Homo sapiens: one gene and its partner. The protein of the gene in region 2 purifies or fractionates together with the protein of the main gene of each other region. This does not show direct contact. Each region holds a gene or a part of one and is shown on either strand. Other genes may lie near its edges.

Region 1 (7,199 bases), on a different chromosome or scaffold from region 2:
TAACCTGTTACCTAGCAAAAGGGAGTTTGCTATTGGGATTAAGTTACAATCTTGAGATGAAGAGACCATCTTGGGTTATCCAGGTGGACCCAATGCAATCACAAGAGCTTTTTTTTTTTTTTTTTTTTTTGAGATGGAATCTCACTCTGTCACCCAGGCTGGAGTGCAGTGGCATGAGTGCCTCAGCCTTCCAAGTAGCTGGGATTACAGGCACCCGCCACAACGCCTGGCTAATTTTTGTATTTTTAGTACAGATGTGGTTCCGCCATGTTGGCCAGGCAGGTCTTGAACTCCTGGCCTCAAGCGATCCGCCCACCTCAGCCTCCCAGTGTTGTGATTACAGGCGGGAGCCACCGCATCAGGCTTTTTTCTTTTCTACATGCACCACTGCATTAGGATATCTCCTACTCACGCTTCTAATCAGATCTTAGCCTCAGGCTTGCTTGAGACATCCACTCCAGAAGTATTTAAGGGGTGCTACCTACTATCAAGGGGCTGAGAATATAGGACAAAAGAAACTGGTTTGGGCCAGGCGTGGTGGCTCATGCCTGTAATCCCAATACTTTGGAAGGCCGAGGTAGGTGGATCACCTGAGGTCAGGAGTTCAAGACCAGCCTGACCAACATGGAGAAACCCCGTCTCTACTAAAAATACAAAAATCAGCCGGGTGAGGTGGCGGCGCACGCCTGTAATCCAAGCTACTTGGGAGGCTGAGGCAGGAGAATCGCTTCAACCTGGGAGGCAGAGGTTGCAGTGAGCCAAGATTATGTATTGCACTCCAGCCTGGGCAACAAGAGCAAAACTCTGTCTCAAAAAGCAAAAACAAAACAAAACAAAAAAAGCAGAGTCTCTGCTCTCCTGTAGGGTTGGAGGCCGACCACAAACAAGCGCCCAAATGCCTGAGACAGGAACAGCACTGGGTGGTCACAGGAGGATGGAAAAACCCAAACAGCTGAAACAGGAACTAGGCAAATAAACCATAGGATAACAGAAAACCCAAGGGAGAGAAGATGGCCAAAACTCTGGCCAGGGTGACATGTCCATGCTTCTTCCAGCAAACCCAGATAAGGAAGAAAGGAGACAGTAATTGAGGTGGAGGTCCCTGAAATCCCCTCCCTTTCCAGAATGCCTAACGATAATTCCATCCTGTAACTAAAAGAAACACCCATAAAATTAGGAACCCAAACTCCATTGTGCAAGACTCATTCTCACGGGCATGCCTGCACTTCTCTCTTAAATGTGTATGTTCACTTTGCAATAAAAGCTTCTTGCAGCTCGGTGCAGTGTCTTACAACTGTAATGCCAGCACTTTGGGAGGTCAAGGTGGGAGGACTGCTTGAGCCCAGGAGTTTGGGACCAGCCTGGGCAACATGGCAAAACCCTGTCTCTACAAAAACAAAAAAAACCCCAAAAACTTAGCCGGTGTGGTACTAGTCCCAGCTGCTCAGGAAGCTGAGGTGGCGGGAATCACCCGAGCCCGGGAGATCAAGACTGCAGTGAGCCATGATTGCGCCTCTGTACTCCAGCCTGGGTGACAGACTGAGATCCTGTCTCAAAAAAAACAAAAACAACAAACAACAAAAAAAAACCTTCTTGCCCTTTGCTTCATTCAACTCATTCTTGAATTCTTTCTCTCCAAGGTGTCAAGAACCTGGAAACTGGCTGGGGCTGGGGTGTCACCAGTATCCAGAGACCTCCTGAGCCTTCTGGCAACAGGACTAGACGAGGTCATTTCAGATCATGATGACTGCTTGGAAGATCAGATAGGGCGCTGTGTTAGTGAGCAACTTTTAGATGGGCTGTCAGTGAAGGCCTCTCCAAGAGAGGCTACTGTAGTTGAGGCCTGAATGATGAGCAGCCTCTGGTCACGAGAATAATCCACCCCTTTCTTTTTCTTATTTTGTTTTGAGACGGAGTCTCGCTGTGTCGCCCAGGCTGGAGTACAGTGGCGCGATCTCGACTCACCACAACCTCCACCTCCCAGGTTCAAGTGATTCTCCTGCCTCAGCCTCCCCAGGAGCTGGGATTACAGGCGCCTGCCTCCATGCTTGGCTAATTTTTGTATTTTTAGTAGAGACAGGGTTTCACCATGTTGGCCAAGCTGGTCTTGAACTTCTGACCTCGTGATCCCCCTGCCTCGGCCTCCCAAAGTGCTGGGATTATAGATGTGAGCCAGTGCGCCCGGTATAATCCACCCCTTTCTTAGAGGAGCTTCCCTAAAACCACAGCCCATCAGCTCTCCAATATCTGTTGCAGCACTTACCTGGTGTTACGGACTGAAACGCTCCCCGCTCCGCACATACCCACCCCGGAGTCCGTATGTTGAAGCTCTAACCCTAATATGGCTATTAGGCATATTAGGCAGTCATTAGGGTTAAATGAAGTCATAGGACCCTTATACTTTTTTTTTTTTTTTTGGTACAGACTCTCTCTCTCGCCCAATATGGAGTGCAATGGCGCGATCTCAGCTCACTGCAACCTCTGCCTCCCAGGTTCAAGCGATTCTCCTGCCTCAGCCTCCCGAGTAGCTGGGATTACATGTGCACGTCGCCATGCCCGGCTAATTTTTTGTATTTTAGTAAAGACGGGGTCTCATTGTGTTGCCCAGGCTGGTCTCCAACTCCTGAGCTCAGGCAATCCATCTGCCTCGGCTTCCCAAAGTGCTAGAATTACAGGCGTGAGCCACTGCGCCTGGCCTAATACGACTATTTGAATACGGCCTTTTAGGTAGTCACTGGGGTTAAATGAAGTCATAGGGTGGGGCCCTAATCTAGTAAAATTGTTGTTCTTGTAAGAAAAAGGAAGACACACCAGGGATTCCTGCTCACAGAGAAAAGGTCATAGGAGGACACAGTGAGAAGGCAGCTGTTTGCAAGCCAGGGAGAGAGGCCTCACCAGAAACCAGCCCTGCCGGCACCCAGACCTTAGATTTGCAGCCTCTAAAACTGTGAGAAAATAAATTCCTGTTGTCTAAGCTGCCTGGTCTGGGGTATTTTGTCATGGCAGCCTGAGCTAATACTCTGGTTTGTAAATCTACGTCACCCAGACCCCTGGAAGAGCTACTGTAGCTAGAGTCCCCACTTCCCCTCTTGTCTCTCCTACAGCCCAATCTCTGCATAGTAGCAGGAGAGAACTTTCTAAAATATAAATGAGACCTCGGAACTCCCAATTCAGACTCAATGAATGACCCCCTTCCACACAAAACTCCAAATTAAACATGGCGGCCCCCCTGTGTCACAGATCTTTCTCCCCTCTGGCACACATCAGCTATGCAGGCCTTTCCTGTTATCCAGACACCGAACTCCAGCTTCAGGGCTTTTGCACTCATTTCCCCTCTGCCTGCGGCACACTTCCCCGAACACGGTTGCATGGCTGTCACCTCCTCAGAGGCTTTCCCAAAAGCTCCTGTCACATCCTCCTGCTTGAATTTCTTTGGTCTTCACCGACCAAAATGGTCTTCTTTGGGCTCTTGTGGGTCCTGATCTCCGCCCTCCATCCCATGGGGCAGGGACCCTGCCTCGCCCACTGCTGAGCTGAGCATTTTACAAGAAGCCGTGCCCGCAGCGGGGCACCTGGCCGTAAAATGCAGATGGACGAGGCGGCATTTGGGCTGGGCCCTGAAGGACAGGGATCCAGGCCTTCCAAGAGCCGGCAGATGGAACTGGAGGGAGGCTGTCTTTGGATCCCCGGCTGCCGTGGGGCTCCGCGCCTCCGTTCCTCATATGTAGGAATGAAGACAATCACGGTTGTTCTGAGGATGCAGGGTTACTCTTCGCAGAGCAGGGCGCCCCGGTTGAGGGCTCGTCAAGCTAAGCAGGCTCCAGGGTGGGCTTCCCGATGCCGACTCTAGCTCCTCTCCCCGCTGGACGCTGTTCTACCTCCTAGCGCTTCTGCTCAGGCCGCGGCCCAGGCGAGGCCCCAGAAAACCCCGGTGCTGGTTAATCAGTCTTGAGTCCGAGCGCGTCCAGTGCGCAACGTGGCCTTCCCATTGGCTCACCCAGTGGGCCGCGCGTCGACGCCGGGGCTCCGGATTGAACGGCGCGCCCAGGTCCCTGCCCCCAGTCAGACGTGGCGCCACCGCCCCCAGCCCGTAGCTCCGGCGCAGCCAATGGCGGCGTCTCCCGGGCGGCAAGCGCGGCCTCCCGCCGCTAGAGGGCGCCGCCGCGGGCGCAACCGAGCCGCTGCCGCCGCCGCTAACCGAGGGAGAGCTGCGAGCGAGCACCCAGGCCCCGCCGCCGCCGCCGCCACCGCTGCCCGCCTGCCGCCGCCCGCCTCCGCCTGCCTTCTGCCGCCGGCCGGCGCGTCGTCCCCACAGGTAGGGGTAGGGGGACGCCGCCGGGCATGAAGGAAACGCGCGCGCCCGCGCCCCCGCCCCCCCCGCGCGCGCCGCCGCCTCGTGCTCGCGCGCGGCCGTTAACGGACGGCGGGCGGGGCGGGGGAGGGGCGGCGGGGTCCGGGGCCCGCGGACCCGAGAGGACCCTGAGAGGAGCCGGGCCGGGGCCTGTGCGCGCGGAGGGACGGGTGGGCGCGCCGTCCCCTTCCCCCACCGAGAATAACGTGACCCACTTCTGCCTGCCATTCCCTCGGCAAAATGTCTCCTTTTTGGTGATTTCACTAAAAAAAAATTTTTTTTTTGGTTATTTCTGTCTGCTCTGGTGATCGCGGGGATCCCGATTCAGCGTCTTGGGCTTGGGGGCGGGAAGGATGCCGGCGGAGAGCTTGGCGCATTAATTTGGGGCTCATCCGTCTTTTTTACCCCCCTTTCTGATTTTTTTATTTTTTCGCGCGGGGTGCAGCCCTGGGCCGGGCGGGGAGAGGCCTTGGGGTCCGCGGAGGCGGGGGCGCCGCCCGGGAGGACCGGGACCGGGACCTGTCAGTTCCCATTAGCGGGGCTTCCGGTCAGGCCTGGGCAGCAAAGGGGTGGGGCCGCCTGAGGCCCGGCCGGGGCCTCCGAGGTCGAGCCTGAGTCGGGACTGGGTGGATTTGCCAGGAGTTGGGTATTTTCCTGTCCCCACCTGTCTAGGGATGAAAAGGAGTTGCCCGTGTTCGGTATTGAACCACGAAGGACCTTGCCATGCCCAGTACGGTGGCCACTGACCCCCCGCCGTTTGGGACGATGGAGCCCACGAAATGGGGCCAGTTTCAGTTGCGGTCCCAGCTGTGAAACGTACATCTGATTTTAAAAACTTCGGATGAGAAAGAAAGTAAAAGATGTCATTGGTAATCTTTTATACTTAAATGCATGTTGAGATGGTCATGTTTGGGACAAATTGGATTAACGAAAATAGATCATTAAAATTAATCTTGGCAGGATGCAGTGGCTCATGCCTGTCATCCCAAAACTTTGGGAGGCTGAGGCAGGAGGATCGTTTGAGTGCAGGAGTTCAAGACCAGCCTCAGCAACATAGTGAGACCCCTGTCTCTACAAAAAATACAAAAAATTAACTGGGCGTGGTGGCGCACGCCGGTAGTCAGCTACTCGGGAAGCTGAGGTGGGAGAATCTGCTACTCGGAAGGCTGGGGTGGGAGAATCCCTTGAGCCCAGGAGATTGAGGCTTCGGTGAGCTGAGATTGTGCCTTTGTGCTCCAGCCTGGGACACTGTCTCAAAACAAACAAATAAAAAAACAAAAGTTAATCTCACTGCTTTTCTTTTTCTCTTTTTTTAGTGTGGCTATTTGGAAATTTAAAATGACATATACGGGCCGGGCGGGGTGGCTCAACGTCTGTAATCCCAGCACTTTGGGAGGCCGAGGTGTGTGGATCACCTGAGGTCAGGAATTCCGAGACCAGCCTGGCCAACATGGAGAAACCCCGTCTCTAGTAAAAATACAAAAATCAGCCAGGCGTGGTGGCAGGCGCCTGTAATCCCAGCTACTGGGGAGGCTGAGGCAGGAGAATCGTTTGAACCGGGAGGCAGAGGTTGCAGTGAGCCGAGATTGTGCCACTGCACTCCTCCCTGGGCAACAGAGCGAGACTCCCTCTCCACATACATGCGTACATACATACATACATACAATGACACGTATGGCTTATTTTGTGTAATATATTTTGTACAATATTTCGACTGGACAGCGCGCAGCTGGGGCATCTGAATGGGTGGTGGCCCTGAGAAGACATGTCTATCTGCTTATCTTTCCTGCTTCTCTGATGGCATGTGGCCTCCTTCCCTTAAGCTCTCAAAGAATCCACTGCCTCTTCCTTCTCATACTGAGCCAAACTGTTGAACTGAATTGCACAATGGGTCTTGTCCTAATTTGCAGAATAATTCAAGTTAATGGACAGTATTTTCCCTGTTGAAAAATTTTCCCTATCTGCTGTATGCTGGAGGCTACAAATAGTTGTATGAGGTTTGTCTCAGGATGAGATCATGAGTTGTTGAGGCTCAATATTATCAATATTTGTGCGTGTGTGTTTGTGTGTGTGTGTTTATTCTACAAAGAGCCCGTTGATTTTCTGCCATCCAAACGAAGTGGAGAATTCCTGCCTTTCTTCATGTTACTGTGACTTTTCGTTGGGGGTTTTACACAGACCTACACCCTCTTTCCTTCCCATTCCCCAGATTCTGTCAGTTTTTGCAAATAAGAATGGTGGCTTGTCAGCCACATTGTTCCACAATTCTTAGTTTTGACTGATTTTAAAACCTGCCAGTTGGGGTGGGTTAAATTGTCATTGTAAGTGGAAGAGAATCAATTATAGAAACTCTCAACTCCAGGGATGGTGAGAGTGACTGTTGGAAAGTTTTGAGCATTTCAGTAAAGGAAGAAAGAAACAAAAGACGTCTGTATCCTGTTGCCACAGATACCCTAGAAAGGGCTTTCTAGAGACAGTATGATGTGAGCAAACTTTTGTCTTCTGGATAACGTCTGGAAGTGTTCTGTTTTGTTTTGTTTTTTTTCTAGTGAAAATATTTTTCTCCAGAATCCTTATGAAAATTACTTAAAGTGTGAGGTGTTGGCAAATCAAGAAGAAATTTTAGATAATTTTTAAGGAGGAGAGAAGTATTAAAGTATTAATCCAGAAGTTTAAAAATTACTGCTAGTGATAACGTTTTAATTTACATGTACACAAAAGGCATATTAAATGAGGTGATTTTCGTTTATGTAAAGCAACGAGGTTACTTTTTCACAAATAGAAAGCGGGAAGCTTTATGTTTTCTGAAAAGGCCTGAATTTGGAGCAGGACATTAATCTGGCACATT
Region 2 (6,912 bases):
TGCTGTGTGCTGGGCACTGTTGGGGGTGGTATGGCGACAGGCAATGGGCTGTGCCCAAGGGGTAAGCTGGGAGAGAAGCAGAATGGGGCCTGGCACTGGGGGAGGCCCCTGCCGCCCCGCCCCCACCCTCACATGGCACAGCCCCCTGAAGCCAACCCAGGCAGCAGCGTCACACCCTGTCACGTGCCCGTCACTCTCCCTGCTGTCTGGGAGGGTGGGGACACCCAGTGGCCTTGGCCAAGCACAGGCTGCAGGCGCACAAGGAGTCAGCAGGGGTGGTGTCAGCTCTCACCGGAGGGGGCCACAGGGGCTGCGTCTTCCGGTTCTTCCCACGGGTCCTGGAAGGAGCCAGAGACCATCAGGCCTTGGGGAAATAGGAGGGGCAGGACCCCACTGCCACCCGGAGCCCCGAGGAGAGGTGGCGCTCACCCAGGAGCCCAGCAGCTGGGAGTGAGTCTCCTGCACACTGTGGACAAAGTCTCTTCCTTTTGACCGGAGCAGGAACTGACAGCTGCAGATGCCCCAGAGATGTAGGTTGGGGTTCAGGGCCCCCACTGTCTGCTTCAAGCCCTTGGATCCCCGGGGGTCAGGGTTGGGCCCCCTCCTCCCGCCACCCTGCAGTGCCCGTGGGCATGGGCGAGGAGGGCTGCTGTGGAGACGCCTCCATGGGGCTTCAGGGTAGTCCCATGGGAGAGGCATTTCTGCCCCCAGCAGCCCTTCCGAAAAGGGGCCCTCACAGGAAAAGTGGGTACCTGCCGGCCAGAAGCACCTCCCACAGAAGGGCCTCCCCAGTGCCCTGTGGGGCCAGGGAGGCAAAGCAGGCCTGGTGTTGGGTCGACAGAGCCGTTGGGGGCCCACCCCCTACCCATGATCAGACCCGGGGCCCCGCAGGGGCAGCCGGTACCTGGGGAACCACTTGGCATGCTCCGTCCAGGGGTCGTCCCCGCGCTTCCAGCTCTGCAGGCCCCCATAGCAGAAGAAGCACCTCACCTTGTCCTGATGGCCTGGGGTGCGGAGAGATGCTGGCCCCAGCCAAGTCCCACCCAGTCCCCGGGCCCCCGGTGTGTCCTTCCAAGGCTATGAGAGCTTCAGCTGGAGGGGAGCTCCCAGGTGGCAAGAAGGAGGAGGGGGTGGGCAGGGGGCTTGGTGGGGGATGTCACTTGTACCTCATTAGCATCAAAGGTGAAAAGGGGACAAGGGTGACTGGGGTGCCGGCCAGGATGGGCGAGAATGTTCAGGAAAGGACTGAGCTGGCATTTGCATTGTTCCCAGAGTGAGCAGTGGGGGCCCCCCAGGGCTTGGTACATCTATAGCCCTGGGGCTTCAGGAGCCAGAAGGGCCCCTCCCCAGGTCTCTGCTTCCCCAAGATGGATTCCCAGTGAGAAGAAGAAGGGAGGCTGCCCTAGAAGGCCAGTCTGGGGCCAGGCTTGCTTTTAGGAACTCATGCCTCCCTTTGGGGGTGGGGGACCCGTCATCTCTCTACCTCCTGGCGACCCCGTCCCCTCATCGGCATCCATGCGATACGTCACCTGCCACTGACATCACAGGTTTGGGCTGCATCGGGCACTGGACCTCTACCAGCCCCAAAGACCCCGGCTCTGCACCTGCCATGCCTCTTGCCTGGCCTTTGCCTCCTGAGCCTTGGACTTCCAGGGAGGTGGGTGAGCTGGGCCTGCCCCTTCACGCCACGGCTTCTGACTGTCCCAGCCACTGTCCCCCCGACCAGCTGTCTTAAGTTGGTCCAGCCTTACCAGGATGGTGCCCCGCCAGAGCCCACTGCTGACAATGACCATGGCTGTGCCAGTATTTGTAAAGCCCTCGGTGGGCCCTGCTGCCCTGTCCTTCAGCCAGGAAGTGGCAGAGCTGGGACCTGAACTCAGGTCTGACCACATGGTCTGCAGCTGTAGGGCAGAGGAGCAGGCCCGGGCCAAGACTAGGATAGGTACTCCGGGGACTTGATTCAGTTGGGGAAGACCAGACAGTAGCTGCAGGTTGGGGCCTGGAGAAATTCCCCACAGGCTGAGCATCCAGGACCTTCTGGCTGACCACTGCCTGCCTTGGTCACCCTGATCCTGTTCTTTAAACATCTCCTCTCCCTGTGCAGAACAGCAGCGGGGAAGGTGAGGGCCCCAGGCAATGTCAGCCCCACCCACTTCTATCACAAAGGGGTACTTGTGCACCAAGCTGGCGGCCTCCACAGCTGAGACCCTCAGACTGTGGCCAGAGGCAGCCCCTCCTCACATCCCACGGTCTGAAACACTCAGCCAGCAGAGACTCCGGGGGAGGGTGTCAGGCACGAGCCCATGGGCACTGGAGGGGCTTGCAGGACCACTGCTCCGTCATCAGGCCAGACCCTTCCTGTTGGGGGATGGATGCTACGGAGGAGGCAGAGCCCTGGGCTGGAAGGGTCCAGAATCGTGCCCAGGCCCACGGCAGGAAGGCCCCCCCGCCCGGGACTGACCTGTGTGGAAGAAGCCGGCAGCAGCCAGCAGCTCGGGTGGCACCTCAGCAGTCAGCGGCCAGTCATAGAAGGAGGCCAGACGCAACTCCTCAGAGCCCATGCCGGGGAAGGCAGGCCCCCTGGACAAGGTGGCCCCGGCGCCCTCCTCCTCTTCCTCCTCTGTCAGGGGCCGCAGCTGGCCCAGGATCTGCCCATCCACGTGGTCCCAGGCTCTGCAGGTGTCCAGGCCTAGGACAGGGCTGCCCAGAGAGCGGGGTCCACAGCGCTCCTGCGTGGGACCATCACCGGCTGCCCAGTGGCTCGGCTGTGGTCCACGGTGCAGGCACTTGGCACTGTCTTTAGGTCCCATGGAGGGAACACTGGCTCTGACCAGGTTTGCAGCAGAAATGGGGGCTGATGGCCAATCTCAGAATATGCCCAGCTGGCCCTTCTGGAGCTCCTGACCCCCGGGGCCCACCCTGGGGACAGCAGGGATAGGCACAGGCCTGCCACCAGACACCCTGGGAGGGGAGTATCCCAGGGCCCACAGCTTTCTGGAAGTGGCCAGGGTGGCCTCTGGGGTCACATGCTCTGTGCAGCGGGGGCGTGTCACGGGGCCCCTGGCAGGGTTGCGGATGCCGCTGACTGCACGTGGGCAGGCCACGTCTCTCTGAACAAGACGGGAAGGAACTGAGCATGGAGACCCCTCCCCAGGCTGGTGTCTGCCCCAGGGCTGTGGGGGAGGGGTTGGGGAGCTGGAGATGATGGCTCCAAGGTCAGGCGCCCAGGGCAGCCTCCGGAAGCAGAGAAGGCTCAAGGAAGGACATGTGAGCTGTGCTGCCTGTGCAGGCAGGGGCCGTGACCTCCCACCTTGCGGGGGTGACTCTAGCCTCACAGGGGCCTAGGGCTGCGTCACGCAGAGCAGGGAGGCAGGTCACCCGGCTGTTCTCTGAAACATCCCTCTGCCCCAAGGGGCCTCTGCAGGTCTGGGAGCAGCTCTTGTCCTCAGGCCAGGAAGATCAGAGCAAAAAGAAGGGCCCGAGCTGCCCTCACCTCCCGCTCCCCCTTCCCCCATCTCCCTCCACCTCCCTCCATACCAGCCTCCCCAGGTAGCCAAGGGAGAGGCTCTGATGCCCCCAAAAGAGGAGTACTCAGTGTTGGCACTGGAATCGGAGTTCCTGAGGTCTGCTGTGACCCTGGCTGCCGGTCCAAGCTCCACACTGTGCCACACTGCCAAACCCCACAGTGAGGGAACAGGGAGGAGGACTTAACCCCAGAGAAGCCAGGGGCAGAACAGGAACCCCAGGGACACCTGGGCGGGACAAAAAGGACAGCTGGATGGGGCCCAGACTTCGACACCCCCCAACCCCCGACTGAGCCCTCAACCCCAGCAAACCCAGCTCATCCACCCGGCTGGCCCTAAAAGCCCCCTGTCATCCTTCAGCCACTCTCCCCTGCTGTTCCGTCCTGGATGGGAGCGTGCAGGCTCACAGAGTTTGGAAGAATAAAGAGGAGTCGCACGCTGCAGGGCCGCTGGTTGCCACGGGGAGCGCAGGTGGGCAGGAGAGGGTTAGCTGCAGTGAAAACCGTCCCTGAGCTCACCTGGAAGCCTGGCCCGTTCTCTTCCCACTGCTGAGCCGCATAGACCCAGCTGCTGCCCACCACACTTTCACACCTGCCCCCCGACCCCCACTCACGGCGGGGGCTGGGGCTGCACCCGCCCTCCCAGGAGGCCTCTGGTGACTGTTCTGGTCATACTCAGGCCAGTGTTGCCAGGCCCCAGCGAGACCCCCAACCCTTTCCTATGCAAGGCCCAGAGCCACCTGGTTTCCTGCAGAAATCAAAGTGAAGGGTGTGGCTGGAAACCCCTCCCAGGCTCTTAAGGCCTCTGGGGTGTCTGCAGGCCCTGCTGAGGATAGAGCCCAGAAGCCAGGGCTGCAGGGCGCAGAGGGAGAGGCAGCAGGAAGCTCAGGGGCATAGGAGGGGAGGGCTGTCGGGAAAGGGCCTGAGGGCCAGCAAAGGAGTTAGGCTAGACACAAGGTAGAACTTCCCAGTGTGTTTTCTGGGATGATCTCAGGGTACCTCGCCTTCGCCCCCTCTCTGTCCTCCAGTGCCCACCTCGCCTTCGCCCCCTCTCTGTCCTCCAGTGCCCACCTCGCCTTCACCCCCTCTCTGTCCTCCAGCGCCCACCTCGCCTTTGCCCCCTCTCTGTCCTCCAGCGTCCACCACACCTTCGCCCCCTCCCTGTCCTCCAGCGACCACCTCGCCTTCACCCCCACGTCCTCCAGCGCCCACCTCGCCTTCGCCCCCTCCCTGTCCTCCACCGCCCCCTCAGCACAGCGGTTACCTTTGGTCACTTCAGCAAAACCCCGGGTGTGGGCCTGGGGCCCTTTCAGGAGGACGTGGGCCTCAAGCTGGGTGGATTTGCTGCCTGGTTCCCAGTCTGCCCGCAGTGCACCGGGGAGGTGGGAAGAGGGGCCACTGTCTCCAGCCTGCTTCTTCCAGGGGAGAGACACATGCAGCACCCAGGTTTGCTCTGAACTCTCAAGCTGGGGACCCTCTGAGGTGGGCAGGCAGCAGAGGCCGCTGCCATGGCCTGTTATGGGACCCTCTCTTCCCACTGCTTGGGGCTCGGAGAGGAGACAAGGTTGGTGTCACTCCTGGAAGTGGAAGGAAAGGCCCTGGGGCCCACTGGGGAGTTGGGGTTAGCTGGGCCATAAGCCGAGCCCCGCTCCTCCGGTGGGATCGCCCCGAGGTCCTGTGCACCTCCAAACCCAGCAGGTGTTTCTCCACACGCATCGCAGTGCCATCCCAGTGCGTAACTGTGCAGGGAGCTGCTGAGGGGCGCTCAGCTGCTTTGCCGTGTGCGGCCGGCCCAAAATTCTCAAAACAAGGACTATCCATATGTTGCTTATTTAATTAAATAAAAAGAAATAAGGAGCTAAAAATAATGGTCATGTGCCTATTCCAGAAGTGTCGGGAATACTGGGAGTATAAAGAAAGCGAAGTTCGATGTCTGAGCCATCCCTGTGGGCACCGGGGCGTGTGTGTCTGGATTTGGCAGTTGCCCTGCAGCTTTGCAGGATGATACCGTGGGGTGGGGCAGGGTGCATGGACACCTCTAGGCTTCTTTGCAATTCTGCATCTACAATGATTTCCAAATAAAAGCTGGGAAAACCCATATGCCTTCTCCCCGCTGAGCGGTAAGCACTGCTGTTACTATTTTGCTGTTTTCTTCCAAACATACCCTAAACATCTTTATTTGCTATTTGCCCATTTTTCAAAATGAATAAACATCTGTCAGTACCTAGGAGGGCCCCCTGTGATGCCCCCTGGATCCCTGTGAGTCTTTACAATTAAGTCTCCCAGCTGAGAAGATGTCAGATGGGGAGCCGTGGGGAGAGGCCTCCAGGTCAGTGAGAAAAAAGCCCTGGGCCCAGCAGGGACTCCTAGAAGCCCCAAGACCCCACAGTGACTGGGATTTGCAGCTCCCTGCAAGATTCAGAACCAGCAGGAGTTGGAGGAGAATATCCCCAAATTGCCCCCCACAGTGATGGGGACTAGCCTATTAAGGCAGGAAAAGAGGACCGTCGTCAGGGCCGGGCTCAGCATTCTCCACCAACAGCTCACACCTCCCCCAAAGCCACCCAGCCATCCGGGAAAGTCCACGCCCTGAAACTGCGTGTGGGTGCCACACGAATGAGCCCTGCTCTACTCCATGAAGCCTGGGGTTGGGGCCACGTGGGCAGATAGGTGGACCCGCTGGGCACAGGGTTCGTCTTCCTGTGCAGAGATGGGGGGTCTCAGGAGGGGCCTCCAGAGAAGAAAACATCTCCCCCAGGGCTCATGCCTGACCTTTCACCGCCAGAGCCTCACAGTCTCCTCCTGTTAACTTTTCCTCTGGGAATGCTTTGTGAGTCATTAACACTTTAGTATAAACAAGACTCTCAACTTTCTCAGAAGGAAGTTAGTGGGATTTTTAGACGGGGATGGGATCAGCCTGGGATAAGAGGGCTGAGTCAGAGCCTGTGGAGGTCCAAATGCTCTGAGCAGAAGGTGAAACCGTCAGAGGCATGTGAACCAGAGCAGCTCCGTGTTGAACGGGAGCTGGGTAAAATGGTAAAATGAGGCTGAGACCCACCGGGCTGCATTCCCAGACGGTGAAGGCATTTTAAGTCGCAGGATGAGACAGGAGGTCAGCACAAAATACAGGTCACAAAGACCTTGCTGATAAAACAGGTCGTGGCAAAGAAGCCGACAAAAACCCACCAAAACCAGGATGGTCACGAGAGTGACCTCTGGACGTCCTCACTCTCCACCAGCGCCAGGACAGTTTACAAATGCCATAGCAACATCAGGAAGTTACCCTAGATGGTCTAAAAAGGGGAGGCATGAATAATCCACCCCTTGTTTAGCGTATCATCAAGAGATAACCAAAAAAGTGGGCAACCAGCAGCCCTCAGGGCTACTCT

Evidence for each region. Proteins that work in one complex are often made in the same cells at the same time.
Region 1: the proteins of BIRC7 (region 2) and ZC3H7A purify together in Homo sapiens (affinity purification with mass spectrometry; 3 studies listed by BioGRID and IntAct, with this or other methods). This does not show direct contact.

The regions. Positions count from the first base shown.
Region 1 is NC_000016.10:11,794,240-11,801,438, reverse strand, and holds the start of ZC3H7A (zinc finger CCCH domain-containing protein 7A), read left to right. Parts: upstream 1-4,180; 5' UTR 4,181-4,315; intron 4,316-4,910; exon of another isoform or gene 4,911-5,220; intron 5,221-7,199. UniProt on the Homo sapiens protein: May be a specific regulator of miRNA biogenesis. Binds to microRNAs MIR7-1, MIR16-2 and MIR29A hairpins recognizing the 3'-ATA(A/T)-5' motif in the apical loop.
Region 2 is NC_000020.11:63,231,995-63,238,906, reverse strand, and holds the start of BIRC7 (baculoviral IAP repeat-containing protein 7), read right to left. Parts: upstream 3,003-6,912; 5' UTR 2,811-3,002; coding exon 2,462-2,810; exon of another isoform or gene 1,005-2,461; coding exon 905-1,004; intron 512-904; coding exon 430-511; intron 339-429; coding exon 293-338; intron 129-292; exon of another isoform or gene 65-128; intron 1-64.